Linked DNA regions of Homo sapiens. The protein of the gene in region 2 binds, or shares a complex with, the protein of the main gene of each other region. Links are inferred from orthologs where the notes say so. Each region holds a gene or a part of one and is shown on either strand. Other genes may lie near its edges. The genes, in order: ESPN and MYO3B.

Region 1 (15,903 bases), on a different chromosome or scaffold from region 2:
CCAAACAGGGTTGTACCACCCTGCTTTCCCTAAAGAAAATGGCCGGGCACGGTGGTTCATGCCTGTAATCCCAGCTCTGGCCAACATAGTGAAACCCCGTCTCTAATAAAAATACAAAAAAATTAGCTGGGCGTGGTGGCAGGCGCCTGTAATCCCAGCTACCTGGGAGGCTGAGGCAGGAGAATCATTTGAACCTGGGAGGCGAAGGTTGCAGTGAGTCGAGATCGCACCACTGCACTCCAGCCTGGGCGACAGAGCAAGACTCTGTCTCAAGAAAAGAAAAAAAAAAAAGAAAGAAAATGGGAGGTCCCGAGGTTGGGGTTGGGGGTGGCGTGGGGGATGGGCTGTGCATCCAGATGCAGACCCCAGGGCTCCCTGGGCACCCCGCCCCACCCACCTTCCGCCTCTGCTCCTCCTCCTCCTGCATCTTCAGCTGCATCTTGCGCACCATCACCTGGCGCTTCCACTCGGGGATGGGCCGGCCCTGCTCATCGTGCGTGGGGATGAGAGCCTCCACGTCCAGCTGCACTCCCGGCGCAGGAGTAGTGGGCGGCACGGGAACCAAGCTTCCATTGAGCAGCGGCTGAAACCCCGCAGCTGGCGGTGTGGGGCTCCGGACTGGTGACAGTGCAGGTGACACAGAAGGCAGCGGCGAATCGGGCTGCAGGGAGAAGCGGTGGGGCTGAGCGCCCGGTGGCCTAGGGCCAGGGAAGCCGGGTCGCAGGCTCCTGCTGGGCCCGCCTACCTGGAAGGCCGGCTGCCCGATGCCTGAGAACACTGTGGTCAGCCCCTTGCTCTGGGGCGTCGGCTTCAGGCTCTTGCCTGCCTTAATCTCAGCCAGTAGCTCCGAGTTGTCGCCCGTCGGGGACATCATGTTGAAAGACTTGGTGCCTATGCGGAGGCAGGAGATGAGGCACTGGCCAGGGTGGGGCTGCATCCCCGCCACCCCTCACCCGCCCCTCTGCAGCCCCTTTCCTAAGCCAAGATTGGATGGGTGCCCATCCTCCGGGCCAGCGGGCAGCTCTCCAGATCCCAGGTCCTGCAGGCAGGTTTCAGGGCCCCCAGAGGCGGGCCCTTGGTTCCCTGACTGTGGCAACCCCACCATCTTCCCCACCCTACTCACGGGATGGAGGGCCCCTGCCTGGAGGCCCCTGGGAGTTCATGGTGGCTCTTGGGCATATGTCCCCGCCCAGCCACTGACTGCCCAGCTCCAAAACACTACCTGGAATCAGCCACCTGACCTTTGTCCCAGGTTCCCTGGCTCAGCCCGGCTGGGGTGGAGCCTCCCTCTGGCCCTCTCCCTACATCAGCAAAGCCTCAGTGACCCTTGAACTGAGTCAATTGGGGCCTCCATGGACATAAAGTCCGGACCCCAGAGTGCCAGTACCCACCTGGTCCCCTCCCTCCCCACCACACCCACAGACAGATGCACAAGCAGACACATTGGTTGCAAGCCGGGAGCACCTTTATGGCAAAGCATGGCTCAGCTCTAGGGGCCCAGGAAAGCAGAGCCCTTACTAAGGCTACGGGAGGCACCCAGGAGGAAGGGCAGGCGGATAATATGGAAACACCCAGGGCAGAGTGTGCATTTTCCAGCTTAGCCAGAGGAGGCAAATGGAGATTTGGAGAGAGAGGTCTCTTGAGCCCCGATGAAGGGGTCAGGTCTGGGAGGGAGGAATAAAATGGGCCGACAGCTCTTGGATTCCCAGGCTGGGGATCCCAGAATGCAGTCACAGCGGGTGGGGGTGGTGGGGGAGAAGAGTAGGAGAAAGGGAAAATCGGTGTGGCTGGCTCATTTATTTAGGCAAAACCATCAGCCAGGTGCAGAATGCTTGGGTGCATATGTGGGTATGAGGGTAGGTATGAGGTGCAAGGCCCCACCCATTCTTCGAGGTTCTCTCGCCTGCCAGCCCCTGCCCCTGCCCTTTCCTCAAGTCTGGGCCCCTTCTGCCTTGCTTTTCCTGCCTCTTCCCCCCACCCCGCGCCTCAGCCTCAGCCAGGAGCCGCGCACGCAGCTACTCACTCTTCCTGTGCCTCAGGACTCTCACTTCTAGGGACCAAGAGGAGAGAAGTGACAGCGGAGTTAGGAGGGAGGGGGGGCAGGATGAGACTGGGACAGCAGGGGACAGGGAGCGGGCCAGGGAGAGCGGGCGGGGGGGAAGTGGAGAAGAGAGGAGGAGCTTTTCTGCCCATCTGACCCTGGCTCAGGCTGCTCTGGGGCCCCATGAGGGTGGTCCATCGAGTTCCTGGCTTGGCTGGTGCCCCTGAGGGCTGGGCAGGGCCACCACTGGCTCTAGCCCCTAGCAAGGGCCTCCACCTTGGCACTGGGTTGGGGTAGGGCACCCAGCCCTGGCTGTGCTGGGTGAGGGTGTCTCGGGAAGCCCAGAGTATGTTTTTCTCTGCCCTTAGCTTCAGCCCTGCTGCAGGCTGTGGAGGGAAGAAGGAGGTTCGGCAGGTGCTGGACTTGCTTACATGGGCTCTGGTCTGCAGGGGCTGGGGCTCCATAGGAACCGTAGGGGGACTAGCTCTGCTCTGCACTTCTAGTCAGGGAGATGAAGCTTTGAGGGGTGCCACTAAGCATGATCTCTGCCCTGAGTGGCTGGGTGAGGAAGACACCCCAGCCAGGCTGGGATGGGAGCACCACATCTAGGCACTCTGTCCTGGGCCTTCTAGGTGTCCTGGCAGGGGGACACTGTCCCACCCTACAGAAAAGCAGCCCAGGAATCCTGCACCAGTCTAGCTCTTAAAAAAGGTTGCCTAGGGAAGTCACCGGGGAGGGAGGGGGAAACACGGTGGGTCACAGCTTTGCCCCCATAGCCACGCCTTGGCTGGCCCAGGGCCCCTGGCAGAAACTGGCTAGGAAGAGTTCCTGGCATATCTAAGAAGACTTCAGGTCTGTGCTGCTTGGAAGGACAAGAGAAAGACGTGGAGAGAGGAAGAGAGGCTCAGGATAGACGGGCAGGGGGAAGGGTGGCTAGCTGCGGGGCCTCTCTGAAGCTGGTTCTACTTCGAGTGTCCCTCCAGTACCAGCTCATCAGAAACACCAGCACCAGCTCATGGGAAACACCAGCGCCAGAGCTGGGAGGCCCTTTCTAGCTGGTGGGAGGAGGCCCAGAGAGGGGAGGGGACTTGCCCAGGCCACACAGCTAGGGGGTGGGAGGCAGGCCCAGATTGGGGAAGGGACTTGCCCCAGGCCGTGCAGCCCGGTCGTGCTTTGGCAGGACCTCAAGCAACCCAGAGCCCTCTCTTAGGGTCAAGTACTCAATGGGGTAGGGGTGGCCGGAAGACCATGTAGAAGAGGAAGGACCCGGGCAGTGACAGCTGGGGAGGGGGCGGTGTCTAGATTTCCCTCCCCTTTCAGGGCTAGCGCCGCCCCACGCCCCTCAACCTGCCCCTACTCACTGCCGGTGGACGAGGAGGAGCGGCGCTGCCCGCAGCCAGGGCCAGCGCTCTCGAGGGGCAGAGGCGGGGCCGGCGGTGGCGAACTCGCGGCCTCCGGCAGGGGCGGCGGCGGCGGTGGGGGCGGCGGTGGCAGCTCCCTGGACGCCTTGGGGTCCGCGGCGCAGCCGTTAGGAACATGGTTCCCAGGAAGCAGCGCCGCCTGCGGGGGAGCGGAGGGGCCTTCGAGTGAGCCGCGGGCGGCAGGGCCGAGGCGCGGGCAGCCGGCGCGCGCGGGCTGGCGGGCACGCACCTCCTCGCTGTGCGCCATGCCCGGGCGTGCGGCCAGCGTCTCGCCGGGGCAGCGGCCCAGCTGCCGGTAGTAGTCCCCCGTGCTGGGCTGCTTGCTGAAGGCGCGGGGCTTGCGGCTGGAGTCCTGCCTCCGCAGCCCGTCGTGGCCGTCACAGGAGCTCAGCTGCGGGAAGACAGTGACCGGTGGGGCTCGGGCACCTGCCCGGTAGGCGCCCCCCACGCCTCCCCACCCAGCTCTTCACCTCCTGGGGACTCGCGGCCAGCGGCCGTCGAGGGGTGCAGCAGCTGACTTCCTAGACCCCCTGGTTCTCACAGTGGGCAGCGGGCGAGGGTCATGGGGGCCTCGGTGGAAGGGCAGGCTCCGCCCGCCTTACAGGGAGGGGTTCTGGGCACCGGCCAAGGGGCACAGGGGCCCCCACTGAGGCCAGAAGAGGCGGGCCCAGGGGCGGGGTGGCCCAGCCCCGACGCCAGGGGGAGCTGGCGAAGGGGCACCTCCCAGCTTAGCCCTCACTAGGCCCTCGGCCGCACTCCGCTCTCGGCTGTCAGAAGGACTGCGGGTCCCCAGGGCTCCGCGGAGCCCTGTCTTTCGGGGGTCCGGGGCCGGAGGGAGCCCCCTCCAGAGCCTGTGCTCTCGGAGGCTCCGGCTTGCCACGGACCCCGGTTGCCCGTCCGGGGGCTGCTCCTACCTGCCACGGTGCTGGTGGCCCCCGCTGTGCACCTGGCTGTGGGGGCGGCAGGACCCGACACCTGCGTTACCTGATACTTCCTCTCAGGTTACAGCCACCCGCGCACAGCCAGCCTATGGGCTCCGACGGCCTGACATCACCCGGGGCCCGCCAATCCCAGGCTGAACCCCCCCAGCCGTCGCGGATGCCACAGGGGGCGCCAACTACTTTGCCACACCTGGCCGCGGCTCTGCACCCGTCCCCGGCCAGATGTGACCCCGCCCCCTGCGCCTCTCCCTAAGCTGGGAGCTGAGCCCCCACCTTCATCCCCGCCCGAGAGGGGAGAGGGCTGACTGTGGGCAGAGGAGGCCTCTCATATTTGGCCCCCGGCTCCGGGTCGCGTCCCCACCCTTCCCCTCCTGCATCTGGAAACCATCGCCATCCACGAAAGCGACACCGACACCCGCGCTCAAGCCTCGGATTTCAGGGGCCGTAAGGCGGGGTCGGGTGACAGCGTGGCTTCCCACCCCATCGCAGCTGCCCCCAACTAGGCCCAGCTCAGTGAGGGAGAGTGAGGCGGCCGGGCCAAAGACTGAGTGACCGGGTGGGGGCTGTCCTCTGCCCCACTCTCCAGCCCATGCGTCCCTGCGGTGGCCTCAGACCCTTCACCCCGCCCGACCTGGCTCACGTTGCAGGAAATGCGACACCGCAGGATTTGTTTTCTGGGCCAGCCCGCCCGCTCCGCGCCCCCTGCAGCCCGGAGGTTCGGACGCCACGACCCTGCTCCCGCCCCCGGTCAGGCACCCGCGCGGGGGGCGCCGCGGCGACACAAAGAGCCCTTTGTGGAGCGTCCGGGCCCCGGCCCTGGCGCCTGCGGCCCAGCACGCACACGGCCGAGATGGACGCACATAGCCGGGAGGGGCGCACACAGTGGGGAGGGGCGCACACAGCCGGGAGGGGCGCACACAGCCCGGAGGGACGCACACAGCCGGGAGGGGGCTCACACAGCCAGGAGGGGACCACGCAGACCTGGCACTTGGGCTCAACGGTGGAGACGGGGCACTGGCTGGGCCACCTGTCCTGTGGATTTGGGCGGGGCCAACAGTCTGCGTTGGGAACTCAGCGATTCCAGGGCCCCCTCTGCCTCCCAGAGATGAAAGGGGAAGCCACTGTGGGAGCTTGGTCTAAGGTGGCATGAAGAGGGCAGCTACTGGAGCTGGCCTGCAGGTTCGGTGTCCCTCCCATGCCTCCCTTGCCCAGTGGCCTTGTGACCCGAGTCACCTTTTATGAATTGGCCCTGGGGTGGCTTTGCCTTGGGCTTGAGAACTGCAAGGTCCCAGGCTCCAGCAGGACCCCAGGGGGCTGCCACACCACATCTGGCCACCTGTGACCTCAGGCTGTCCCCTCACCTCTTAGACCATCCTTGCTCTGTTCCTATGGCCAGAACGCCAGTGTTCCCCAGGGCACCCTGCCCGGGATACCCGGAATTGCTCAGACCAGACCTCTGCCCCAACCCCTGCTCCAGAGCCTCAGCCAGGGGCCTGCAGGCCCCAGACATCCCTAGGCACCTCACACTCCACCTGCCCACCCTGGCCTCATCCTCTCCACACAGGCTCGCTTCCTTCCAGGGCTCCCAGCTCAGGCCTGGCCCTTTCCCCCAGGAGCTCAAGCCCTAAACTGGAACCAGCCACAGCTTCACTTCCACCCAGCCCTGCTAGTGCCTGCTCACCTTCCCCCCACCCTCCTTCCAGCCCTCACCTCCACAGCCATGCCACTGGCACCTTCCACCTGGCAGCCACCTCCCTTGGGTGACACTCTCCGACTGAGCCTGGGGCTGTGGGGGTGGGGGGGCATGCTTGGGGAGGGGCAGTCTCCATGCATTCTCTGTCAACTCCATGACAACCCGGCCACTCTGTGCAAGAGGTGGCACAGGCCCAGTTCCTGGTGAGGCACAGCTGTCTGGACCTGCGTCCTTCACCCCCCAGCTCCCATGGAGGGCAATGACCTGCTCTTACTCTCCTCCCAGTCCAGTGTCCAGCCCTGACCCCTTGTGGGACTCGCCAGGAGCTTTGACTCTTGAACATGCCATGGACCCAGGGATCCCCACCCTATGCCCACTAGTGAGGCCAGGCCTTTGGCCTCACTGGCCCCCATCAGCCCAGTCCCCCTGCTGGGAGGCAGGCAGGGGGTGAGGGCTCACTACCTCCTTCTTGAGGGCCTCTGTCTCCACGTGGCGGAGTTTGTTCTTGGTCTGCATGTAGATGTCAGCTGCCTGTGGTCCTACAGGAGGCTTGGGAGCTGGGTAGCCAGGTGGGGGTGGGGGCAGTTGGGTGCCTGGGGGCGGGGGTGGCGGGGGGAAGCTGGGTGGGGGTGGTGGGGGTGTGGGCTTCCCAATCGTGCCCCGAGGCAGGCCCAGCTCCGGGTTCAGCATGTCCATGTAGCTCTGTATGTCTGCAGCTCTAGCGCTGGAAAGCCCTGGGGAGGCAGAAGGAAGGGCCAGATTTGGGAGCATGCAGACAGGCTGTCCCCCAAGACTGAGACTCTCCACCACCTGGAAACAACTTGCCGAGGGGCAAGGTGGGCTCCGGGCACCACTTGGTACACCTGCTGTGGCCCCTGGCGGTGCTGGGCTTCCCCTCCCTGGCCCTACCCTGCCCCAGCCCAGCACTTACTGGGGGAAGACCAGGCACTCCGGTTTGGAGGGGAAGCACTGGAGGCTTTGGTGTGTCTAGAGGGCAGGGTCACCTGGAAGGGGAGGGTCTACTCCTTGGGAGTACGGATGGCCACATCCAATCTTTGCAGGGCACCCCTGCCAGGTCTGGAGGCCACCATCTGGCGGCGTGAAGCAGGCATTGCAAGTGGACGGACGCCCATGCTCAGGGCACGGTCAGGGTGTGTGTACACACAAGCCTGCAGTCTGCCGAGGCGATCGTGCATTTGTGTATGTTTGAGGGGGTACGCATTTGTGCACATGCTTCTTTGTACTGATGAATGTGTGTGCATTGCTCTGTGGACATGGTGTGTATGTGTGTGTGTGTGCGTGCATATCTGTAGTATGGAAATAGAGCACTGTGTGCTTGCTTGTGTGTAGGGTGGGTGTGTGCAGATATTCGCATGGCTCTGTGTGTTCATATCTGTATGCTGTATGTACACATGTACAAGTGTGTGCTTTTGTATGTGAGTAGCTAAGAATAATGAATGGTGGGCGACACACGTGGACTTTGTGGGTGGGGAGAGTACATGTGGATGTACATGTATGTTTGTGATAAGCACACACAAGTATGAGTGACATCTGTCTCTCACCAGAAGGGGTGTCGCCTCCCCATGTTTAAGAGCAAGTGATGAGGGTAGTGTCCGATATTGGCTGTGGCAGGGCGGCCCAAGGCCAATCCTCACAGCCCAGCAGTCTGGCTTCAGTCTGCTCTCCCTCCCCGTCTTCCTCCTGGGCACACTCACCACATGGAGGGTGCTGGCCCTTGATGCTGGAGTGGCTGGAGGAGCAGGAGTCGTAGTTGGAGAGGGTGCTGGTAGGCGAGCTGAGGTCAAAGTTCAGCGGCTGGACCGACACCGTGGTATTGGGTGAGGACATGCCTGAATCCGGCTGCTTAGCCTCCAGCTCTGCGGATGGATCCCGGGAAAGCACGCGGTGCTCCACGCTCTGAAGGGGAGGCAGGGAGGCCATGAAGACAACCATACCCCAAGATGCGTTGCTCTCCAGGCCAGGGTCCTACTCAGTCATGCCTTCGCTGTGGGATCTTGGCCAAGCCACACCGCTCTCTGGGGTCTCTTCCCCATCACTAGACGGTCTCTCAGGTTCCTCCAGGTTAAGATTCAAGCCCAGCCCCGCCAGGCAGCAGGACCCAGGTTCCTGGGAAACTCCCTCCCCTGGCTCCTCCCTGATTAGGAGGGTGGAGAGATCGACAAGGAGGGGGCCCTTGAGCTGCACCCCAAGGGGAGAAATGCCAGGAGATCGGCCTTCTCCCTCACGGATCGGCAGAGGCTCCATGGGGAGGCGCACAGCACAGGCCCATCCCTAGTTACCTGGCTGGCAAGCCGGCTCTCCTTGCTGGACCTGGGGCCTGGGGCAGACTCCCAACACCAGCCCGGCCTGTCTCCTGATGGGGCCCTCGGGGTAAGGGTGGGGCCTGGATGGCCAGCTGCAGTGATGGGCAGCCAGAACTCAGGCTGCCAGGCCTGCCATCCCCTCGCCCTGCCCGGTCTGTGCGTCTGACCACAGGCCTGTCCCCTCCCGGTGCAGACGGGGCTGTGGTGGGGGCCCTGCTTACATTGCCATGCTGCCCCTGCTGCCGGCAAGCCCGCTTGCTCCGCTGCCTCCTGCCCAGGCCTGCTCCTCCTTGCCCCATGCCCCCTCCCTGCCTAAGAAGTGTCACAGGCCCCCTGGGAGAGAGAGGCAGGCCTGGCACCAGGTAACGGCTCAGCGGCCGCGCTCATTGGCCCCGTAATTAGGGGCTCTGTGGGAGTGTTTGCCTTTTCTGGGCCAGCGTCTTCTGTGGCTTGGATCTGTCCCTGCCGCAGCTGGGCCTGCTTGGGTGAGGGAACCAGGGCACACATACTCCACCCATTCCAGGGGACCAGGCCCTGCTGCCTACCGCAGGAATCAGGGGAGCCATAGGAGGTGGCGTGGGCAGCACCCGAAGGTGCTCTTTACCTGGCCAACAGCAGTGGGTGCTGAGGGCACCAAGCCCTGACCCCTGTAGGCAGCAGATAAGAGGCTGGGCCACAGCAGGTGTACTGCACCTGGCCTGAGCCACCCAGCTCTGCAGTCTGGGACAGTGGCTTCAGACTTCCCCTCCCTGACTTACTAGCTATTTCGGGAGAGTCACCTATGCTTTTTGTGCCTAACTTTCTTTATCTGCAAATGGGGATAACAGCACTACTTGCTCTGCTGAGCTCCAGGACATGGCACCCAGTAAATGCCATATTGTCAACTTTTTTTTTTTTTTTTTAGACAGAGTTTCATTCTTGTCGCCCAGGCTGGAGTGCAGTGGCGTGGTCTTGGCTCACTGCAGCCTCCATCTCCCGGGTTCGAGCAATTCTCCTGCCTCAGCCTCCCAAGTAGTTGGAATTACAGGCGCCCGCCACCACACTCAGCTAATTTTTGTATTTTTAGTAGAGATGGGGTTTCATCATGTTGACCAGGCTGGTCTCGAACCCTGACTTCAGGTGATCCACCCGCCGCCTCAGCTTCCCAAAGTGCAGGCATGAGCCACCCCACATGGCCTCTCAACCTTTTTTTTTTTTTTTTTTTTTGAGACAGCGTCTTGCTCTGTCACCCAGGCTGGAGTGCAGTGGCGTGATCTCGGCTCACTGCAACCTCCGCCTCCCGGGTTCAAGCGATTCTCCTGCCTCAGCCTCCCAAGTAGCTGGGACAACAGGCACCCACCACCATGCCCAGCTAATTTTTATATTTTTAATAGAAACGGGGTTTCACCATGTTGGCCAGAATGGTCTCGATCTCTTGACCTTGTGATCTGCCCGCCTCAGCCTCCCAAAGTGCTAGGATTACAGGCGTGAGCCACCGTGCCCAGCCTTTTTTTTTTTTTTTTAGAAGGAGTCTTGCTCTGTCACCAGGCTGGAGTGCAGTGGCGCGATCTTGGCTTACTGCAACCTCCGTCTCCTGGGTTCAAGCGATTTTCCTGCCTCAGCCTCCCGAGTAGCTGGGACTACAGGCGTGTGCTACCATACCTGGCTAAATTTTTTTTTGTATTTTTAGTAGAGATGGGATTTCACCATGTTGGCCAGGATGGTCTCGATCTACTGACCTCGTGATCTGCCTGCCTTTGCCTCCCAAAGTGCTGGGATTACAGGCATGAGCCACTGCACCCGGCCAACTATTTTTTTAATGTACTGTGAAGAGTAACGGAGATTACACCTTTAAGGCACTCGGCAGGGTGCCTGCCTAAGTCAGAATCCAATGAATAGTGTTTGCTGTCCTATGACCGCTAGCAGCTGCATCCAGAGAGGCCCTCAGGTGCCCTGGGCTCTGGTGCCACCCCCCACGGTCCCTCAACAGAGTCACAGACACTCTTAACTGAAGGGGACCCACCATTGATGCAGAAATGCCCTTCCCAGTGTCCATCCCAGCTTATATACCCTAGTGACAGAGTGCTCACTACCTGCTGGGCCATTCATTCTCTTCCAGAGACTCTTTCGCGGGGGGAAGTTCATCCTCAGGCCCCCCTGCAGCCTCTGGCCTCTGGGCCTTGCTGTGTTCTGCAGCCCCCAGAGCCAGGACCATCCCCCTGTGCTGGGGGGGGGAGGGCAGATGGACAGACGGTGCTCAGGGCACAGACCATCTGCCTTCTTCCCTCCGGGCCTCATTGCACAGCCCCTCCATGGCCAGGCTGCCCCATGGAGTTGGTCCGCATCCTTTTCGGGTTGACTGCGAGGCCCACTCTCTTCCCTGCCTATTGCCTCATAGCAGGCATTGTACCAGATGGTGCAGAGCCCTGCACTTGGAGACATCCACAGCTGAGTTCAAGTCCCATTGGGTCACTTCATGGCTGTCTCACCATAATAACATAATTTAAAAAGAGTAGCGTGGGTTTCCAGTTATGACCCAGCCATGAAGTCAGCAAATGTATGGTGCAGGGGCTGAGAGGTGCCTCCTGGCCAGGCCATCAAGGTAGGTTCTCCACTCTAACAGTTACTGGTGATGCCATCTTGGTGCCCCGCAGACTCACTTTATCCATATGTGGAACGGGACACTTAAACACTCTTTTCTGCAGAGGGTGGCTGTGAGTTATACCCAAGCTAATGTCTATGGGTAGGTGAATGAGCCTGCCTATTCCCAGTGGGTCCTGTCTTGTGATTTCTCCAGCCTTACCCCTTGGGGTGACTCTGGTCTTCCCTGTCCTCTTTCCGTTGACCTTTGTGCCTCTACTCCCTCAGTCCCCAGTAGGCAGTGGTTCTGGGCTGAGAGGTCGTGTGGGGTAGCGGGCTTCACGTCCCTGAACCTCAGCTTCCTCCTTGGTAAAAGGGGTGACGACACCCACCACTGGGGTGGAGGGGCGAGAAGAAAGAATGCGACAGGAGCAGCTCAGGGATCGTACCAGGTTCTCCACCGTGCGCAGGTAGCGGGTGCAGTGGCTGTGGCCGTTGAAGTCCGACAGGTCGGCGGCCGTGTACCCGTCGCGGTCGCGGACGTCCAGCTCCGCGCCGTTCACTACCAGGATCTGGCAGCACTGCGGGGGCACGCAGTGAGGACCCGGCCGCGGCCGCGAGCTGGGACCCCCGCGCCCGGGCAGGGCCGTGCTGAAAGCGCGGTGCCAGCAGAGGGCGCGCGCCCCCACCCCGGGCCCGCGCTGACCTCTAGCTCCCCGTTCTCGGCGGCGTCGTGCAGCGGGGTCCCGCCCCACAGGTCAGCCGAGATCTCCCCGCCGTGCAGCAGCAGCCAGCTGAGCACCTTGGTGTGGCCGCGGCTCGCCGCGAAGTGCATGGCGGTGGCGCCGTCTTTGTCCTGCTCGGACAGGCTCACGTCGGTGCAGCTCACCTGGGCGGGACGGGCGGGGAGAGGGGGGCGGGGGCTGGGCGCCAGGCCCCTGTAGGCCCGCCCCCTGTACCTCCGTGGCCCGCCCCCGCCCCCCCGCCCCACCCCTGATGGCCCCGCTCCCTCCACTCCCCGCCCTGCCGGCTCCGCCCCGCCTCCCCTGCTCCCCGCCCGGGCCCGGAGCTCACCAACCACACGATGACTGGGCTGTGGCCCATCTGCGCCGCGGCGTGCAGCGGGGTCATGCCGTCGTGGGCGCGCGCGTGCGGGTCTGCGCCGCATTCCTGCACCAGGTACTGGGTCACCTCCAGGTGGCCCTCCTGGCACGCCAGGTACAGGGGCGTGGCACCGTTCTTGGTTTGGGCATTCACTCCCCTGCGGAGACACAGCGCCCACCGTGGGCTTTCAGCGCCTCACCCCCTCCGAGGCCTTCTTACCCGCCCCCATCCCGTCCCGGGGAGCCCTGGACGGCAGGGAGAGTGGGTGGGAAAGGGCCCTGTCACCGGCCCGCTGCTGCCCGGGGGGCTCCCCCTGGACTGAGTCCTGAGCCACCCTCCCTCAGAGGTCCCTGAGGGCGTCCCACCCAGCACTGCCCTGCCCTCAGTCCTACTTTTTTTTTTGAGAAGAAGTCTAGCTCTGTCGCCCAGGCTGGAGTGCAGTGGCTCGATCTTGGCTCACTGCAACCTCTGCCTCCCGGGTTCAAGCGATTCTTCTGCCTCAGCCTCCTGAGTAGCTGGGATTACAGGCATGTGCCACCACGCCCCGCTAATTTTTTGTATTTTTAGTAGGGACAGGGTTTCACCATGTTGACCAGGCTGGTCTCGAACTCCTGACCTCGTGATCCGCCCATCTCAGCCTCCCAAAGTGCTGGGATTACAGAGCCACCGCACCCAGGCTCAGTCCCACTTTTTAACCGAGGTCTACAAAGATGTGGTGAGCTGGCCTCTTCTCCCCTCTCACCCACTGTCACCATGAATCCCCACACCTGCTGTGTCTGACCTCTATCCCTTTCATTGTGTGCCCCCTCCATCTGGAATGTCCTTCTCCTCCCTCTTGAAGACTCAGTACCCATCCCTCCTCCATGAGGGCCACCCTGATTTATTTCCCCCTTGCTGGCCTCCGCCCCACACTGCCCAGGGCCACTTGAGCATGACCTGTCATGCTTGGTTGACCATAACTGATTTTGACCTTTGCCTCCCCCAGAAGACTGAGTTCCCAGAGGGCAGGGTGGTAAGGGTTGCCAGACAAAAGGCAGTTCACACAATTCAATCTGAATTTCTGATAAACGGATAATGCTTTAGTATTCTATATCCCAAATATTGCATGGGACATACTTATACTAAAGTACAGCTTGTTTATCTGAGATTCAAAGCTAGTCAAACGTCCTGGGTTTGGTTGTTGCTGTTTTTGTTAATCTGGCAGCCCTCAGGATGTCCACTATGTACTGAATGCTTCTGCTGTGCTAGCTCTGGGCTACGGCACTAGCAAGCAGGTTCTTCTTTTTTATTTTTATTTTTGAGACGGAGTCTTGCTCTGTCATCCAGGCTGGAATGCAATGGCGCAATCTCAGCTCACTGCAACCTCTGCCTCCTGGGTTCAAGCCATTCTCCTGCCTCAGCCTCCCAAGCAGCTGGGACTACAGGCATGTGCCACCACGCCTGGCTAATTTTTGTATTTTTAGTAGAAACCCAGTTTTGCCATCTTGGCCAGGCTAGTCTCGGACTCCTGAGCTCAAGTGATCCGCCTGTTTCAGCTTCCCAAAGTGCTGGGATTACAGGTGTGAGCCACCGCACCCGGCCATCAACTATTACTATGACCATCAACTGAGATTACACCGGTAAGGCACCTAGCAGGGGACCTGCCAGAATCAGAATTCAGTCAATGGTGCAGCTGCAGCTGAGGAGGCTCACAGGTGGGGCTGGGACTCTGTGCCATCACCCATAGTCCCACAACAGAGGCACAGACTCAGCTCTCTCCTCGGTCACACAGCTGGTAAGTGGCATTTGAACACCCATCTGTCTGTGCATGCAGGGCCTGGCCGGCAATATGGGCATGCAGGGACTGAAGAGCTGGAATGTGTCTCAGGGGCTTCTCCTAGGGCCTAGCTTTCGGCTGTCACTGTCCCTTATCCTTGCTCTCCCAGCCCAGAGGGGGGCCTTTGAGCTGTGCCACAGTCTTGCTTCTTGTCTCTTTGTCTTCCCAAACCCATCCATGAAATGGGGACAACAGTTGTCATCCTGACCTTGTGCAGAGTGCCTGAGAAGTGCTTGCAGAGCCCTGAGCACAGGCCTGGTGCCTGGCGCACAGCCATTGCTGAACTTTAGGATCCTTCCTTGTGCCTGGGAGGACCAGCCACCAGGAGGGTCTATGGCTGGCCTGGTGTGTCCAGGTGAACAGCCAGGGTGCAGTTACCACCGAAGGACACTAGGTGGAGCCACAATCTATCCCCAGACCCAGGAGAAGCTCCAGGTTGGGGGCCGCGACCTATTGGGTTCCAATTCACCTTTTGTGCTTAGGAGGCCAATTCTTCACAGGACTTCACATCCTGCCCATCTACCTCCCCCAGTGTTTCACCCCCTAGATCAACCACATGCTCCACCCCGCATTCATCCCTCGCTCACCCATCCAACTGCCCATCCGCTTGTTGCCTGCCCATCAATGGGCACCAGGCTACCCCCCTTTGCCCACCCACCCTCTTGTTCCCAACACGACTTAGCCCCTCTTCTGACCCCTGTCACGTGTGCCCTCTCCCTCCCTCTCACACACATCCTGAGACCCTCCCAGCTGGCATCTCCCTGTCCCTAAAGCCCTGGTTCTCTGTCTACTTCCCTGACTCCTGAGACCCCAAGGCTGTCTGCAGCCCCCATGGACCTCCACTCACTGATTTCTCCTCCCTCCCCACTCCCTAGACACAGGGCTGCCATTTGCTGGGGCTGATGCTGAGCCCGGCACTTCACGATGGTGCGGGGAGCAGGCACCATGCCTGGTGATCCAGAGGGGGTCCCGTCGACATAGATGAGGGAGACAGAAGACACAGCTACGTATCTATCTTCAGAAACATGCTGGCTCGTGGCTGCCAGCCTCCACACCCCAGCGCCAGCGTCACCCCCACGCACACTCACATGCTGCTGCGTCAGGAACAGGCTGTTGAATATTTCATGACTGACACTCAGCGGCCTAAATTATTCACCCCGTAACCAAGGCACAGTGAGTGCCGGGGTCTTGGGGATCAGGGGCTGGTGGGGGCCCACTGGGTTCTATCTGTAGAGGCCCACGGCGGTCTGCACAGCTGGTGGGGGGGCCAGACCTGCGGTGAGCTCTGCTCTCCCAGCACCCCCCACTTGGCAGAGATCCATGACCCAGGGGTGCCCAGCCAGCCGGAGAAGGTCTGAGAAGCTGGCACCAAGCAGGATCTGAGCAGCAGGGGGCAGTGGTACCCACAGCCTCCTGCAGGGCCGCTGGCTGGCATTCCCAGCCCAAGTTCCTGGCACGGAATGAGCCCTCAGTAAGTGCTGGAGCTCATCACCATTCTCGTTAGTATTCCACCATCTGCACTCACACGCCCCATTATGGAGTCAGAGCCTCCAGCTTGGAATACCCCAGAACATGGGACAGATATGCTGATGGGCTGAGGGGGAGGGGATCCTGGCTCAACATCCCCTTGGAATACCCCAGAACATGGGGCAGATATGCTGTTGGGCTGCGGGGGAGGGGATCCCGGCTCAACATCCCCCTCCACCTTGGCCTGAGGACAAGAAGAACAATGGGCACTCTCACAGTCACTGGGGAGTATTACAAAGATATGGATGAGCATAAGGACCAAAATGAAATTCTCATCACACACCTGGAATCCAAGCACCTTCGGAGGCCAAAGCAGGAGGACTGCCTGAGCCTAGGAGTTCGAGACCAGCCTGGGCAACATAGAGAGACCGCCATTCTCTACAAACAATACAAAAATGAGCCAGGTGTGTTGGTGCACACCTGTAGTCCCAGCCGCTCAGGAGGCTGAGGAGGTAGGATCACTTGAGTCCAGGAAGT
Region 2 (16,123 bases):
CACATCAAAAAAAGGAAACTACAGGCTAATATTCCTGATGAATGTAGAAGTAAAACTCTTCAACAAAATATTAGCAAACCAAATTCAACAATACATTAAAAAGATTATTCATCCTGACCAAGTGGGATTTATCCCAGGAATGCAAGTATGGTTCAACATATGCAAATCAATCAATGTGATACATCATATCAACAGAATGAAGGACAAAAATCATATGATCATTTCAGTTCATGCTGAAAAAGCATTTGATAAAACTCAACATCACTTCATGATAAAAACCCTAAAAAAAACTGGGTATAGAAGGAACATACCCCAATACAATAAAAGTTGCATATGACAGACCCACATACTGAATGGGGAAACATTGAAAGCCTTTCCACTAATATCTGGAATATGACAAGGATGCCCACTTTCACCACTGTTACTCAGCATAGTCCTGGAAGTCCTTGCTAAAGCAATCAGACAAGAGAGAGAAATAAAAGGCATCCAAATTGGAAAGGAAGAAGTCAAATTAGCCTTGTTTGTAGATGGTATGATCTTATATTTGGAAAAACCAAAACACTATTAAAAAACTACTAGAACTGATAAATTCAGTAAAGTTTCAGGATACAAAATCAACATACAAAAATCGGTAGCATTTCTATATTCCAATAGCAAACAACTGGAAAAAGAAATCAAGAAAGTAATCCCATTTGCAATAGCTACAAATAAAATACCTAGGAATTAACCCAAAAAAATGAAAGATCTCTACAACGAAAACTATAAAACACTGATGAAAGAAATTGAACAGGACACACATGAAAAGGGAAAGATATTCTATGTTCATAGTTTGAAAGAAGCAATATTGTTAAAACGTCCATACTACCCAAAGCAATCTACAGATTCAATGCATTCCCTATCAAAATACCAATGTCATTCCTCACATAAATAGAAAAAACATCATAAAATGTATATGGAGCCACAAAAGACCCAGAATAGCCAAAGCTATCCTGAGCAAAGCAAACAAAACTAGAAGAATCACTTTACCTAACTTCAAATTATACTACAGAGCTATAGTAACCAAAACAGCATGGCACTGGCATAAAAACAGTTATATAGACCAATAGGACAGAATAGAGAACACAGAAACAAATCAATGCATTCACAGTGAACTCTTATTTGACAAAGCTGCCACAAACATACATTGAGGAAAGGACAGGCTCCTCAATAAATGGTGCTGGGAAAATTGGTTATCCATATGCAAATGAATGAAATAAAATCTAAATGGATTAAAGACTTAAGTCTAAGACCTCAAACTATGAAACTACTCAAAGAAAACAATGGAGAAACTCTCCAGGACGTTGGTCTGGGCAATGATTTCTTGAGTGATACCCTACAGGCACAGGCAGCCACAGCAAACATGGACAAATGGGATTACATCAAGTTTAAAACTTCTGAACAGCAAAGGAAACAATAAACAAAGTGAGGAGACAACCCACAGAATGAGAGAAAATATTTGCAAACTATCCATCTGACAAGTTATTAATAATGAGAATATATAAGGAGATCAAACAACTCTATAAGAAAAATCTAATAATCTGATTTTAAAATGAACAAATGACCTAAACAGATATTTCTCAAAAATGGCAAATAGGTTTATGAAAAGGTGCTCAAAATCAATAATCAGAGAAATGTAAATCAAAATTACAATCAGATATCATCTCACCCCAGTTAAAATGGCTTTTAACCAAAAAAACTAAGCAATAACAAATGGCTGGTGAGAATGTGGAGAAAAGTAGACTCTTGTACACTGTTGGTGGGAATATAAATTAACACAATCACTATGGAGAACAGTATGGAGGTTCTTCAAAAAACTAAAAATAAAACTACCATATGATTCAGCAATCCCACTGCTAGGTACACCCCAAAGGAAATGTTATCAGTATATTGAAGAACTATCTGCACTCCCATGTTTATTGTAGCACTATTCACAATAGCCAAGATTTGCAAGCAACCTAAGTGTTCATCAGCAGATAAATGGAAAAATAAAATCAGGTTTATATATACAATGGAATATTATTCAGCCATAAAAAGAATGAGATCCTGTCATTTGCAACAACATGGATGAAACTGGAGGTAATTATGTTAGGTGAAATAAGCCAGGCACAAAAAGACAAACTTTGCATGTTCTCACTTACTTGTGAAAGCTAAATATTAAAACAATTGAACTCATGGAGACAGAGTAGAAGGATAGTTACCAGAGGCTGGGAAGGGTAGTGGTGATGGGGAGTAGGGATGGTTAATGGGTACAAAAAAATAGAATGAATATGATCTAGTATTTGATAGCACAAAGGGATGACTACAATCAACACTAATTTATTGTAAATTTAAAAATAACTAAAAGTATAATTAGATTGTAATACAAAGAAATGATAAATACTTGAGGTGATGGATACCCCATTTAACCTGATGTGATTCTTATGCATTATATGCCTGTATCAAAATCTCATGTACCCCAGAAATATATACATCTATTATGTACCCACAAAAACTAAAAATTAAAAATAAACAAACATAAAACCACAGAAAAAAAATCAGCTATTAGAATTTAGCAAAGATAATGCAACATTAGGGAATATATTACTATGATTTTCCCATTAATATATCAAAGTATGAAACACCATTAAAAATGGAAATCCAAAATGAATCTGGTAAGTTTTAATATCTAATTTTTAGAACATTAAAAAATTCAAATGGGTTAATTCCTTTCTAGCATTTAAACAGCACAGAAACATATCTCTCAAACCAAAAGTCAACATCTTAGTTAATAATGGATTTCTACAACCATTGCTAATAAAAATCAAGAAAAAAGACAAGTATCTCTCACAAACACTATAAAATTTTGCATTGTTTTTGAAGTATTAGCCACTGTGATTAGACAAAAAAACATAGAAATAAACACTGGGAAGATGGTGAATATAAAATAAATAGTGGAATGATTTATTCCTGGAAAATCAAAGTTTAACAATGAAAAAAATTAAGTTGATTCATTGAGGAGCTGAGTATAAAATTAGCATCTAGAAATCAAGCAATTTCAAAATATATTTTTCTATATGTTAAAAGTAATCAGCCAGAAAGAAAATAGCATTTTAATAGGAATTAAAGAGAGTAAAATGCCCAAAGCTAAACCTAACGAGAACAGAGCAGAATGTATAAAAGTAAAATCTTAAAATCAATGGATTAAATGAAAAGAGACCAAAAAAATGCAAAACCATATACCTTATGCTTGGATAGAAAACCTTACTGTGAAGATGTCAATTCTTCCTAAATTTAGTCTGAAAGTAAATAATTGTTTTTTTTTGAGACAGAGTCTTGCTCTGTGGCCCAGGCTGGAGTGCAATGGTGTGATCTCAGCTCACTGCAACCTCTGCCTCCCAGGTTCAAGCAATTTTCTTGCCTGAGCCTCCCAAGTAACTGGGATTACAGGTGCATGCCACCACGCCCAGCTAATTTTTTTGTATTTTAGTAGAGACGGGGTTTCACAGTGTTGCCCAGGCTGGTCTTGAACTCCTGAGCTCAGGCAATCCACCCGCCTTGGCCTCCCAAAGTCCTAGATTACAGGCATGAGCCACAGCGCCCAGCCGCTTTGTTTTTTTTTAAGAATTTGACAAAATGATATTAAACTTCATTAGAAAATTAAACACATGAGGGCTGGTCACAGTGGCTCACACCTGTAATCCCAGCACTTTGGGAGGCCAAGGCAGACAGATCACTTGAGGTCAGGAGTTTGACCAGCCAGGCCAACATGGTGAAACCTCGTCTCTACTAAAAACAGAAAACTTAGCCGGGTGTGGTGCAGGTGCCTGTAATCCCAGCTACTCAGGAGGCTGAGGCAGGAGAATAACATAAACCTGGGAGGCGTAGGTTGCAGACAGCTGAGATCACGCCACTGCACTCCACCTTGGGCAATGGAGTGAAACTCAGTCTCAAAAAAAAAAAAAAAGAAACAGAAAAAGAAAAACACATAACATGAAAATTTTAAAAAAGAATAATTAGTGAACATAATTTGACCAGACACTAAAACATGTTATACTGCTAGAGTAATTAAAACATTATGCCACAGGGGTAGAAATAAGTAGTCAGATCGTTAGACTAGAAACCAAAAGTAGACTCAAATACACAAAGAAATAGGGTTTATGATAAAAATCACATTACAAATCAATAGGCAAAAGATGGACTAAATAATACTGTTCAATAAATTATGCTGGCTTAACTTGCTGGCTGTTCAGAAAAAAAGTTAAGCCAGATTGCTACCTCATTCCTTTCTCCAAAATAGAGTATGGTGGCTCAAAATTTTTTAAAAAAATATAGCTAAATACATTATAGTCTTGGTGTAGGCAAGAAATATTTTCAAGTAGAATAGAAAACTCACAAGCCCTAAGAAAAAAATTGATAAACATAATTGCATACAAGTAAAAAGGTCTCTACAACCAAAAGAATTGTTGTAAGTACTAACATTTTTCCAAAAAATAAATAGAAAAGAAGGTTTGTATCAGGAGCTAATTTTCTATCAAGAGTATATACAATAAAAAAGAAAAAGACTCAAAAAATTTAAATGTATAAAAGATGCTAAATCTCACTAGTAAATTTTAAACGGCAAATCAAACTAATGAGATACCATTTGTCTCCTATCACACTGTCAAGATTTTTAGAAGTTTGATAATAGTGTTAAGAGAAATAAGCACTCTGAGACAACATGAGCGAAAGCGTAAACAATCTTTGTGAGGAATTATTAGTCAAAATCTACCAAATGCCCATTCCCTTTGTCTCTGTAATTCTACTGGTAGGCATTTACTTTACATATATAATCAAAAAAAGCACACTTAGATTTATATTAACAGAACATAAAAGAAAAACCATCATCTCGATCGATGCAGAAAAAGCATTCACAAAAAATTCAACATTTATTCAAAATTTAAAAACAACAACAAAAATCTCTCAACAGACTAGAAAGTGAAAGGAACTTCTTCATCTGATACAGGAATCTAGGAAAAACCTGAAGTTAACACCACACTTAATGGTGAAAAACCGAATGCTTTCACCTTAAGATCAGAAGCCAAGGATGTCTGCTCTCATCATTTATATTGAATACTGTGGTGAAGCCAGAATAATAAGTCAAGAAAAAGAAAATTTAAAAATCCAGATTAGAAGGGAAGAAGTAAAATGGGCTTAATTTGAAGATTACATGATTATCTATTTAAAAAACTGATGGAATTTATAAAAACATTACTAGAACTAATTAGTGAGTTTATCAGAATTACAGGATACAAACAAGGTCAATATTTTAAATTCAATTATATTTCTACATACTAGAAAGGAAAACTTTTCAACAGTGCTAAAACAATTGTAGAGCAATATGCAAAAAGAAAAAAAGAATCTTTATCCTTACACCACATATAAAAATTAACTTTAATCATTAAACAGATGTAAGAGCTAAAACTCTATTAAACTTGAAGTAGATAGACATACAAGATTGTTCACTATAGTATTATTTTCAGTAGAAAACCAGATACAACCTAGAGGCCCATCATCATGGAGAGATTATCTAATAAATCATAATAGTTACATAAAATTAAATACAATGTAGCCACAGGTAACCACCAAAAAGAAAAAAGGTAAATTTTCTGCCAATTAATATGGAAAGAATGCCAAATATACAATTAAGATTTGTTTTAAAAGTGTTGAATAGTGTATAGAGAGGACAATTTTTGTGTAAATACAAAGAATATTTGCATTTCTAGTCATTTTATGTGTATATTTGTGTGTATGTCTCTATGTATGTGTATATCCTTATATACATTTTTCCAGAAGGCTACACAGGAAACTCTTAAACTTTAGGGAGAGGTGGTAAAAATCAGAGAGTTTGGAAAAGAGAGAAATTTATATGCTTTTTAAAATTATTACACATTTTTAGTCATGTTTTTTGCTAGTGCATATGTTATTCTACTTTTTAAAATAAATATTTTTTAAAAAAACATATAAGAGATCTCTACAGAGGAGACTATTATGACCCAAATGTGTGCTGAAGTCAGAGGATAGCAGAAACCATATGAAACAGAGGCTCATCCTGAGAAGAAAAAGAAAACAGAGAAATAAGAAACTGAAAGGACCATGCTTGAGAGAGTGAGACAAAGAGGATTAGTGAGTGGGTTCACTGTGAATTCTACATCTTGGCCCTCTGAGGCCTGCTAAGCTTTGCTGTCTGTCCTTGTAACCCATGAAATTTCCTACTGCATTCTTCCAAGCAGCCCCTCTTTTCATGAGCTGATTTGAGTTTCTCGTGAGCTAGTTTTAGTTCCTTAACAACCCCAAATTGGTCTAGTCTGATCCCTTGTTGAATACCCTGAATTAGTCCCTAACGGAGGTACAGCCTTACCTTGTTGAAAGTAAAGCACTCTGCAGCATGCACCCTGTGAATGTCTGCAGTTAGTCAAGCCTAGCGAGCATGATTTAAATAGAAACTTGCCCAGCAACATTTTATACTCATTAGAAAATTCATGATGAAGATTTCCATTGCTCAGTATGCTATTCAGAATATTTTTTCTAGATGTTATAGTATGGTATATATGAATCACAAATCATAGAATGCTTTCAAATCTAGAGAATAGATTTTAGAAAGAAGAAATCGGAAACCTGAACTGTGAAATGTCAGAGGAAATCTGTACAAATATTAAATATAACACCCAGAGATACACAGAATAAGGAAACACATACCATACAAGCGTGAGTAAATTAGAGAATAATTCCAAACCAATACATAAGCAAGTGCATAATAGTTGTGTTAGTCCATTTTCTGCTGCTGTAACAGAATACCACAGACTGCATCATTTATAAACAATAGAAGTTTATTTGGCTCATGGTTCTGGAGGCTGGGAAGTCCAAGATCAAGGGGCCACATCTGGTGAGGGCCTTCTTGCTGCATCATAACATGGTGGAAGGTCTCACATAGTGAGACAGGGCAAGAGAGTGAGAGCTCAAGAGAGAGAAAAAGGAGACTGAACCTATCCTTTTACTAGGAGCCGTCTCCCACAATAACAGCATTAATCCATTCATAAGGGCAGAGCCCTCATGACCTAGTCACCTCTTAAAGGTCCCATTTCTTCTCACAATGGCAATTAAATTTCAACATGATCTTTGGAGGGGACATTCAAACCATAACCATGGTAAAGACGTAAGAGTAGGAACTGGCTTCTTCACAAACCACCTATCTGGATGCTGCTAGATAGGGCCTGTTCAAGTATAGCTCAAATGTCTTCTCTTCTAGGAGGCCTTTCCTAATTTTCCCACTAGAACTGACCTTTATGGTTCCACTGATTATGTACTCTTTTCCTTTCTTTAAATTTTATTTTATTTTAAGTTCCAGGTTACATGTGCAGGACGTGCAGGTTTGTTACACAGATAAACATGTGCTATGGTGGGTTGGCTGCACCTATTAAGCCCCCCATGCATTAGCTATTTATCCTGATGCTCCAGGGGAGACACTCAGGACTGGCATTTGACAGAGCTTGGTAGAGGAATCCAATGATCTCTAGGTTGATCTCTAAGTTCCATCTCTAATGTTCTATGGATTTTAAACCTTGAATATACAAAATTACTGAGAGGAAGAAAAGAATCATGGCATAATGGAATTTATCTACTATTGTTTACATTGTCATGTTACCAAATTAACAAATCTGTCATGATATTGCAGTCACTAAGGAACAATACATACCCACAGCTCTTACAAATGATTAACTAAATGATCAGATTTTTCATTTCCCCACCAAAGCATGAGGAAATTTATCTTAGCTTTAGCTGCCTGAAACCTCTCTTGGGTGAAAAACATTAAAAACATCTGCAAATTACTGATGACTAATGCCCTTCAATTTGGCCTCAAGCTGAGAAATTCTGTGCAGAAATAAAGTGGTTTATAATCCCACAGGTCCATTCTATTATAAACTGCAGGTGGCAAATCAAGTGACTATGAACTATGCTGTGTGTATGTGTGTGTGTGTGTGTGTGTGTGTGTGGTGTGTGTCTGTGTAAAAAGCAATACTCAAGAGGGTGTTTATCCTACTCCTTCAAGAGAAATTTAACCACCCAGACAAAAGGCAAATGCTAACTGAGAGGACCCAGGAATCTGGGTGATGTCAGACAGAGGCCCAAAGCCAGAGTGGCTGTCATCCCCCTCCACTGCCCACCAGCCAGGGCAGCTGCATCTGCCCTTTGCAGAAAAACAATCTAAAGCAAGCACAGAAGAAAGCTGGAAGGAAAATAACTGCAACTCACATCGATGACCTATTTTCTGAATCCGGCTTATGAGAGATTGGATTCTCATTCCTCCAAAAACCAGCAGAACACTTCAGGCCCAGAAAATGGTGTCTTTGATGACTAGAATGTATGACACATCATTACCAAAGGACTTTCGATCTAGGTTCCAAGAGGTGTTAGCCTCAGATGACTATTGTGGGAGGAGCTGATAAATCCACCAAATCCTTGGTGACTTTGCTTCACTATTAGGCAAGATTAAGATGATGCTAATTGGTAGTGAGCCTGATCTATTTAGTGTCTCCTACCAGGACACAGAGCAGAATCAAAACCATTCTCACAGATCCTGTTTGCATGTCATTTAACAGTTCCAATGTGATATTCCCCCAACCTTTTAAAGTTCCTTCATTCCAGATTAAATTCCTTCATTCCAAATGCTGCACAATCAAAACTAATCATCTTTTTGTGAGCAAAGGGCATAATCAAAGCATGTAGTCAGGGTCACTTTTCTGAACTGCAGATAAACCCAGGGGAAACACCATGAGTTTCTGATCTGAATTACCAAGCAATGAAACAGTGACTATTCAACAGTGACTATTCATTCAGTAGCATGCCCTGGGCTATATACAGAACAGTAGGTTAAGAGGAGGCAGGGGGTGGGGGGGTGGTGCTGGGCATGGTGGATCACGCCTGTAATCCCAGTACTTTGGGAGGCCAAGGCTCGTGGATCACCTGAGGTCAGGAGTTCGAGACCAGCCTGGCCAACATGGGGAAACCCCATCTCTACTAAAAATACAAAAATTAGCAGGGTATGGTGGTGTGCGCCTGTAATCCCAGCTACCAGGGATGCTGAGGCAGGAGAATTGTTTGAACCTGGGAAACGGAGGTTGCAGTGAGTAGAGATTCTGCCACTGCACTCCAGGCTGGGCAACAAAGTAAGACTCCATCTCAAAAAAAAAAAAAAAAAAAAAAAAGGGAGAGAGGGGAAGTGAGAAACAGGAGGGTAGGGTCCCCAGAAAGCTTCTTTTCTGGCCAGCTAACATGACACATAGGCCCATGTGAAATAGTTGAAGACTGTGCAATAACACTGGATAAGCTATATCCATCAATTCTGAGGAGGAGTCAGTTCAACCCAGGACCAAGACTTGAGTGGGAATGCTTCCTGGAGCAGATAAATCTAGGTACAGTTTTGAATGAAGAAGTGAAAAGGATTAGTGTAGATGAGGCAGGAGAGAAACCCAGAGCCAAGAAACAGCACACAGAGAATGCAAATATGAAGAAGGTGATTTAAAGGACAGCGATCTTACTCCCGCTAGTCAATAATGGCCTTTGTGTTTCCATTTACTGTCATAAGAATCTTAAGAATGGGGATAATGTGTTCTATCTTCCTATATTTCCTACAGTATTTGCACATAATAATTGCTCATATTATAGCTAGTAGAATCATGGATTCCTACAGTTGGACTGAACTTATCATCCCATCTGCTTGCAGAATAAATTAATAAATAAATGAACAGGTTATTAAAATTAACAGGTTGTTAAAAAGATCAGCCTGGTTCCAGTAGAAGAATTATAAAAATAATCAAGAGATGAAGTTGAATTTGTATACAAGAGTCAGTTGAAGGCAGAGCTTTCAGGCAGCCTGGGGGGCTGGAATTTTTCCTCAAAGGTGAGAGGGTGCCACACCAGGCTTTTAAACAGTAGAGTAACATAGGAAATTTTCTTTGAGAAAGAGTGTCTTGGCAGATTTTTGCAGGAAAAGGCAAATCAGAAGGCCAGCAGGATTCCATTGCAACAAGGAGTTAAAGGCTATACAGTCTGGAAGGTGACCGACAGCCTGCCCAGGCCCAAGGGAAAAAAAATACCAGATGCCCCAGCAGAGGAGGACTGGCTAGACTGTCTTCACCAGGGATTTGCCCGAGGCCCTTTCAGCCACTGGGCCCCAGTAATTTATCCTAATTTCCTTCCCCACAGCCCCGCCTCTCCACCTCAACCCTGATAGTACTTATTAGCTCAAAATGGACCATCTGAAGGAAGGGACAACCTCTTGCGAACGAACCGAGGGCCTGGTCTGCTCCAAATAAGTGTTTCCTCTAAGAAAGAAATTATAATGCATTCCTAGTGTGAGTGCAGCAGCAATAGCCTGACAGCCATTTGCATAATTTCTCTTCTGTAACAGACTTCAAAAATAACAATAGGCGAACTAGATAGAATCTATTAATTTTAAATTTGCTTGAGCTGCTATCTTTAATGAAGCTAAAGTACCATGAAGATTTTAAATCTATTAATTATGTGGTGTATTATTTGTTCTCTCCAATGAGACATTTTGGGGAATGGACATTTAATTTGTGTTGCTATAGAATCACCACCTTATTCTGGGATGTCCACTTGGTTTGAATGTACTGATAAGGTTGGAAGGTAGCGTGTTTAGAAAGTTCATCCAAGAGTAGCAGAAAAATGCTAATTAATGTCAAGAATAAAATATACGCACACACATCAAGTCAGGAATGACTCAGGAACGCAGAAGTGACCAGCCTGGGCACCATAGCAAAACTCTGTCTCTACAAAAAATAAATAAATTAGCAGGGCATGTTGGCACATGCCTGTAGTCCCAGCTACTTGGGAGGCTGAGGTGGGAGGATCATTTGGGCCCTGGAGTTCAAGTCTGCAGTGAGCTATGATCACACCACTGCACTCTCACCTGGGGGACAAAGTGAGACCCCACCTCAACAATAAAAATGTAAGAACCCGGAAGCAAAAGAATCTCATAGATGACTTTCGCAAGTGCTAAAACCACTACACAGCAACAGGAGGACAGGAACCATGCCTATCAGGTCCACCATTATATCTCCCATGCCTAACATAGGGCCTGGCATGTGGCTATATAATGTTGAAAGAAATGACCTACTGGATGGATGAATGAATGGGATTTCTTTACATAACAAAGGCAATTAAAATACCTAAGAAATATATGCATAAGATTTATTTTTCCAAAGAACTAAAAGAGCAATAATTTCATGATCATTTTCATTCATAAGCATACATGCCCACATGTGTGCACGGGCAAACACGCACACCCTTCAAGTAAAAACACCTTAAGAAGGAACTACATTGAAAAGAAAGGACTTTAAGTCTTAAATTATTTATTATAGCAGAAACATTTCAAACTAGCAAAGCATTTAATAACACTGTAAAATGAATTACCACAAGTAAACCTCTTAGTTTTCTTCATCCATTTATGGAGTGCCAGACACTACACTTGATGGCTGACAAATTGCAAAGAAGGAAAAAAAGAAAATACCTAACTTTTGAGTGTCTTCTGGATAATTTTTCCAAAGAACATCCTACTAAGTTATACTCTAAACAGGCCAGACGCGGTGGCTCATGCCTGTAATCCCAGCACTTTGGGAGGCCCAGGTGAGTGAATCGCCTAAGGTCAGGAGTTGGAGACCAGCCTGACCAATATGGTGAAACCCCATCTCTACTAAAAATACAAAAATTAGCTGGGCGTGGTGGCGGGCGCCTGTAAGCCCAGCTACTCAGGAGGCAGAGGCAGGAGAATCGCTTGAACACAGAAGGTAGAGGTTGCAGTGAGCTGAGATGGTGCCCACTGCACTCCAACCTGGGTGACAGAGCAGGACTCCGTCTCAAAAAAAAAAAAAAAAAAAAAGTTTTACTCTAAACAGATGAATTTTTAGCAGCACCAAATAATCCATTTTCTGCTCCATTTTAATATCCACATTTTCATTTCATGGGTTTTATCCCTCAATTCCAAATGACATTCTAAGTCAAATAAGAACTTAACCAAAGTCATCAGCTAATACTTAAAAAACAAATAAATCCTAATGGTAAAAGGAGAATCTCTGGGTATTAAGTCTGCCCTGAAAAACAGGGCAAACAATGTGTCCAGTTTCAGATTTTAAAAATTTGTGGATCTGGAGTTCGCCTGCTTTATCACACACACACACTGGGCACACACAGAGATCACCTGTGTGTGATCTGCTTTATCACACACACACACACACACACACACACACACACGGTACACACAGAGATCCCTGGGGATTGTTCCTGCACTTCCATACTTCTCTCTCCATAAAGCTCAATCTTCCTTCATCCTGAATACGGTGAAACTACTATGATCTTCCATACTACTTTCCTAATCATATTTTGGAAAATGTCATGTGGAAATCTTTTTGGTATTAGTATTTTCAAATCAATCCTTCCAACATACCCTGTAATCAAAGCACAGTGTGATTCATTCTGTCAACATCCAGTGGCTTTGGGAGGCCAAGGTGGGAGGATTGCTTGAGCCCAGGAGTTCAAGACCAGCCTGGGCAATATAGTGAGAACCCATCTCTACAAAACTAAAAGATTAAAAAAATTATCCAGGCATGATGGTGTGCAACTGTAGTCCCAGCGACTTGGGAGGCTGAAGTGGAAGGATGGCTTGAGTCCAGGAGTTCGAGCATGCAGTGAGCTATGATCTTGCCACTGCACTCCAGCCTGGACAACAGAGTGAGATACTGTTTCTACAAAAAACAAACAAAAACATTCCATGGTGCCTATGGTGTGGCAGGTCCTGGTGACATAAAGTAGCCTCCTTATCCCTATGGGGCTCAGAGCATGAGTGTTACAGAAGGGAAGTGCAAGGTGCTATAGGAGCCCATGACAAAGGAAATCAGGCCTCTGAGGTGATTCTCCAACTTGGTTGCACATTGGAATCACCTGAAGAGATTTACAAATATGGATTCCTGGTCCCACCTCTCCCTGGAAATTCTGGAGTATGGCTCTGAGCACCAGCAGTTTTTAAGCTTCCCAAAGAGGCAAAAAAGTTTGTGAATCATTGCTCTAGGGGGGTGGTTCTCGAACTTTTGTATTCATCAGAATCTTCTGGAGGGCTTGGTAAAACAGACTGCTGGACTCCACATCCAGAGTTTCTGACCCTGGTGGTGGAGAAGAGCCACAGAATATGCATCTCTAACAAGTTCCCAGGTGATGCTGGACCACCCTTTGAGAAACACTGCTTCAGAAAGCCAGCTGAGGAAGTGAGCTGAAGGGACAGGGGACGGGGGAATGTTTTCGGCAGAGGGAAGCACCGTGTGAAGGCCCAAAGTGGAGATAGCACCGCGGCAAGCAAATATTCCTGGAACCAAGAGATCTGAGGCATGGCCAGAGGTTAGGGAGCAAGGAGGATCATGCAGGGTAAGGCCAGTGATAGGTGGACACAAATCCTGGTCCTGCCATCTATGATTATGACTGAGAAAAAAAATGACTCCACAAAGCAAAAGAGGCTGCTCCTCTTCACAAGAATTGGCCACAGTAGTATTGTCCAATCAGTAGGGTTCTTAACTCTCAGATTATGAAAAATCCAGGCTGGCTTATTATTAAAAAGTAATAACACTCTTTGCAGGGTTAACATTTTATAGCTTTCATGACACTTTTGCAAGTGTTATCTCATCCAATTCTTAAAGAAATCCTGGAATGCAAGAAGGTCTGGCGCTCCTGCCTTCATTTTGCCAGGTCTAGAACCCCATTATCAGACTCCTGTTCTGGTCATCTTCTACTATAGCTCGTTACCCTCCAGCGTTTACTTCTACCCACAAATGGAAAAGTCCAGTCCTCTAGAAAATTCTTGTCCAAGTGCTGAGAAAAATATAGGAGAAACCAGCTCTCCACATAGGTGGTAACATACACACCTGCCCATAGCATTTACGCATGTGTCACCAGAGACTGTTCCAGAAGGCCCTGGCTATGTTTAGACAACTATTTGACTCTCCAGAAATTCAATCCAAAAGCCAGGCATGGTGGCTTATGCCTGTAATCCCAGTACCTTGGGAGGCCAAGAGAGGAGGATTGCTTAATGTCAGGAGTTCAAGACCAGCCTAAGCAACATAGGGAGAACTACCCTGCCAATCTCTACAAATTTAAAAATTAGCTCATGTGGTGGCATATGCTTGTAGTCCCAGATACTCAGGAGGCTAAAGCGGGAGAATCTCTTGAACCCAGAAGGCTGTAGTGAGCTATGATCTCACCACTGCACTCCAGCCTGGATGACAGGGAGACCCTGTCTCAAAAAAAAAAAAAAAAAAATTCAGTCAGAGTGTAAAGTTGATTTGGAAGAGAACTCAGATGTTTGTTTTCACATTCTTAGACACTAGTCCTGAAATTTGGGTAGCTGCCATGAGGGGGAAGTAATGTCTGGGTTTGGTTCTACCGTAAGCCAACAGGCTTGGCAAACTATGGATAACTTAGAGACCATACAAGTATAATAAACAATTCAGGAATTTTTTTTTCTGTCAAAATTAACACTCTTCAGAAAATATTGGCTACTATTTTAATTTTTACATTCTTTTTAAATTCAAGAATGTGTTGTGTCTTTTTCTGTGATTATAAAGTAGTACATGTTTGTAGGTGAGATGTTGGAAAATACAGGATACAAATCAAATAAAATCACCCCTAATCCTACCCAAAAACTAATCACTTTCAACATTTTGTTGTCTTTCCTTCAGACTTAAAAAAAAAATGCATGTGGGTAGGTGCAAGAGTGTCTATGGGTGGGTGTGCATTTTTTTTTAACCAGTGTTGACTACCTATTGTTTGATATTTGGTATTTTTAAAAATATTACATCATTTTTTAGTAGGTTTTAACATCATTTAACTATAATCTTGATTCTTAAAAGGAGATATCTCCACTCTCAGGATATCAGAATCACCAAGGAGGCATTTTAAAAATTATACCTTGCTTCCGAAGCTACAATCCTCCTCCACCCACCCTCACATTAAGATTTCTTGGTGGGCTGGGGCTTGTACAGACATATGAGAACTGCTAGTCTGCAAGAGGTATTACTGACCATTCCTCTTTCCCTTACACGGGCACACCAAATTAGTTAACTGATGCCCCATAAGCATTTTGTTGTTTCCAATTTTTCCTTATTTATGAGCTACTGCAATCAACATCTTAGCATTCATATATACATACGTAATGGTTTTAAGTTAAAGTCCTGGGTATAGACTTGCTAGACAAAAGGATTTAAATATTTTTAAGGCTTATGAATAACTTTTGGGGAAAGATGTAACCTAGACTAGAGAATGATCAAAATATATAAAAACTATTGACTATATTAAGAATATTTCTTATAATGAACGAATGGTTTTCAATCACTGGTTCTCCTAGGTAAAAGACAACCAAGACCTTTCTCTTTCTTACTTAGATGTCAAACATCCAGGTTCCAGGCACATGCAGTCCCCAAGGAAACTCTCCCATCAATCTGCATTGCAGCTTCAGAGACGCTATGCTATGCTGGCTCAGGAAACCAATTAATTAGCCTTCTTAATTTTCCTAAGTACCTCTGGCACTCTCTAACTGCCTATCCAGTCCCTTCAAGGGGAAGCCTCCAGCTTCCTTTTCTTTCTGAGACAGGATAGAAAGGCTAAACATGACGATATGCAACATGACGATATGCACGTCTGCACACCCAGGCCCACACCTGTTACTTTTCAACTGGGAAAGGTTCCCTTGGCAACCATCTGCACCACTGCCCCAACAACTCCTGCTCAGTAAGCCCTGATATTAGCAGGAATAAGACTTCTTTATCAGGATCCCTGTTTTACTAATCCCCCCCGACCCTGGACTATTTCTCCATGCAGGCAGGGATGGTGGCTGTCTATTTACCATCCACTGCTGATCTCCTAGTTCTTGACAATAGTTTTCAAAACATGTTTGCTAGATGAATAGATAAGATTTAGCAACCTCCCTTTTATATGCAAGACTTGTGAAATTCATAAGCACTTTGGATATTTAAAAACAAACTTGACAAAACAAAACAGTTTGCAA

Evidence for each region.
Region 1: the proteins of MYO3B (region 2) and ESPN are in contact, whole or in part, in a crystal structure (PDB 5ET1), measured with the Mus musculus proteins. The link is inferred for Homo sapiens from one-to-one orthologs. Residues at the interface, in XP_017174528.1 of Mus musculus: Arg1223, Arg1224, Gln1226, Gln1227, Pro1228, Lys1229, Met1230, Leu1231, Ser1232, Ser1233, Asp1236, Thr1237, Met1238, Tyr1239, Tyr1240, Asn1241, Gln1242, Leu1243; in NP_997570.1 of Mus musculus: Leu35, Ala37, His41, Arg45, Ala67, Asn69, Ala71, His75, Asp76, Ala79, Thr80, Asp101, Ser103, Leu110, Arg113, Phe114, Thr135, Thr137, Ala139, His143, Tyr144, Ala147, Thr169, Asn171, Tyr177, Leu178, Gln181, Ala203, Asp205, Met207.

What each region holds. Positions count from the first base shown.
Region 1 is NC_000001.11:6,436,591-6,452,493, reverse strand, and holds part of ESPN (espin), read right to left. Parts: intron 15,801-15,903; exon of another isoform or gene 15,710-15,800; intron 12,241-15,709; coding exon 12,054-12,240; intron 11,869-12,053; coding exon 11,686-11,868; intron 11,561-11,685; coding exon 11,429-11,560; intron 8,014-11,428; coding exon 7,812-8,013; intron 6,831-7,811; coding exon 6,559-6,830; intron 6,190-6,558; coding exon of another isoform or gene 6,070-6,189; exon of another isoform or gene 5,446-6,069; intron 4,467-5,445; exon of another isoform or gene 4,377-4,466; intron 4,025-4,376; exon of another isoform or gene 3,933-4,024; intron 3,854-3,932; coding exon 3,403-3,853; intron 2,051-3,402; coding exon of another isoform or gene 2,024-2,050; intron 1,203-2,023; exon of another isoform or gene 1,164-1,202; coding exon of another isoform or gene 1,124-1,163; intron 892-1,123; coding exon 746-891; intron 662-745; coding exon 398-661; intron 1-397. UniProt on the Homo sapiens protein: Multifunctional actin-bundling protein. Plays a major role in regulating the organization, dimension, dynamics and signaling capacities of the actin filament-rich microvilli in the mechanosensory and chemosensory cells.
Region 2 is NC_000002.12:170,170,474-170,186,596, reverse strand, and holds the start of MYO3B (myosin-IIIb), read right to left. Parts: upstream 8,451-16,123; 5' UTR 8,310-8,450; coding exon 8,308-8,309; intron 6,468-8,307; exon of another isoform or gene 6,445-6,467; coding exon of another isoform or gene 6,416-6,444; intron 1-6,415.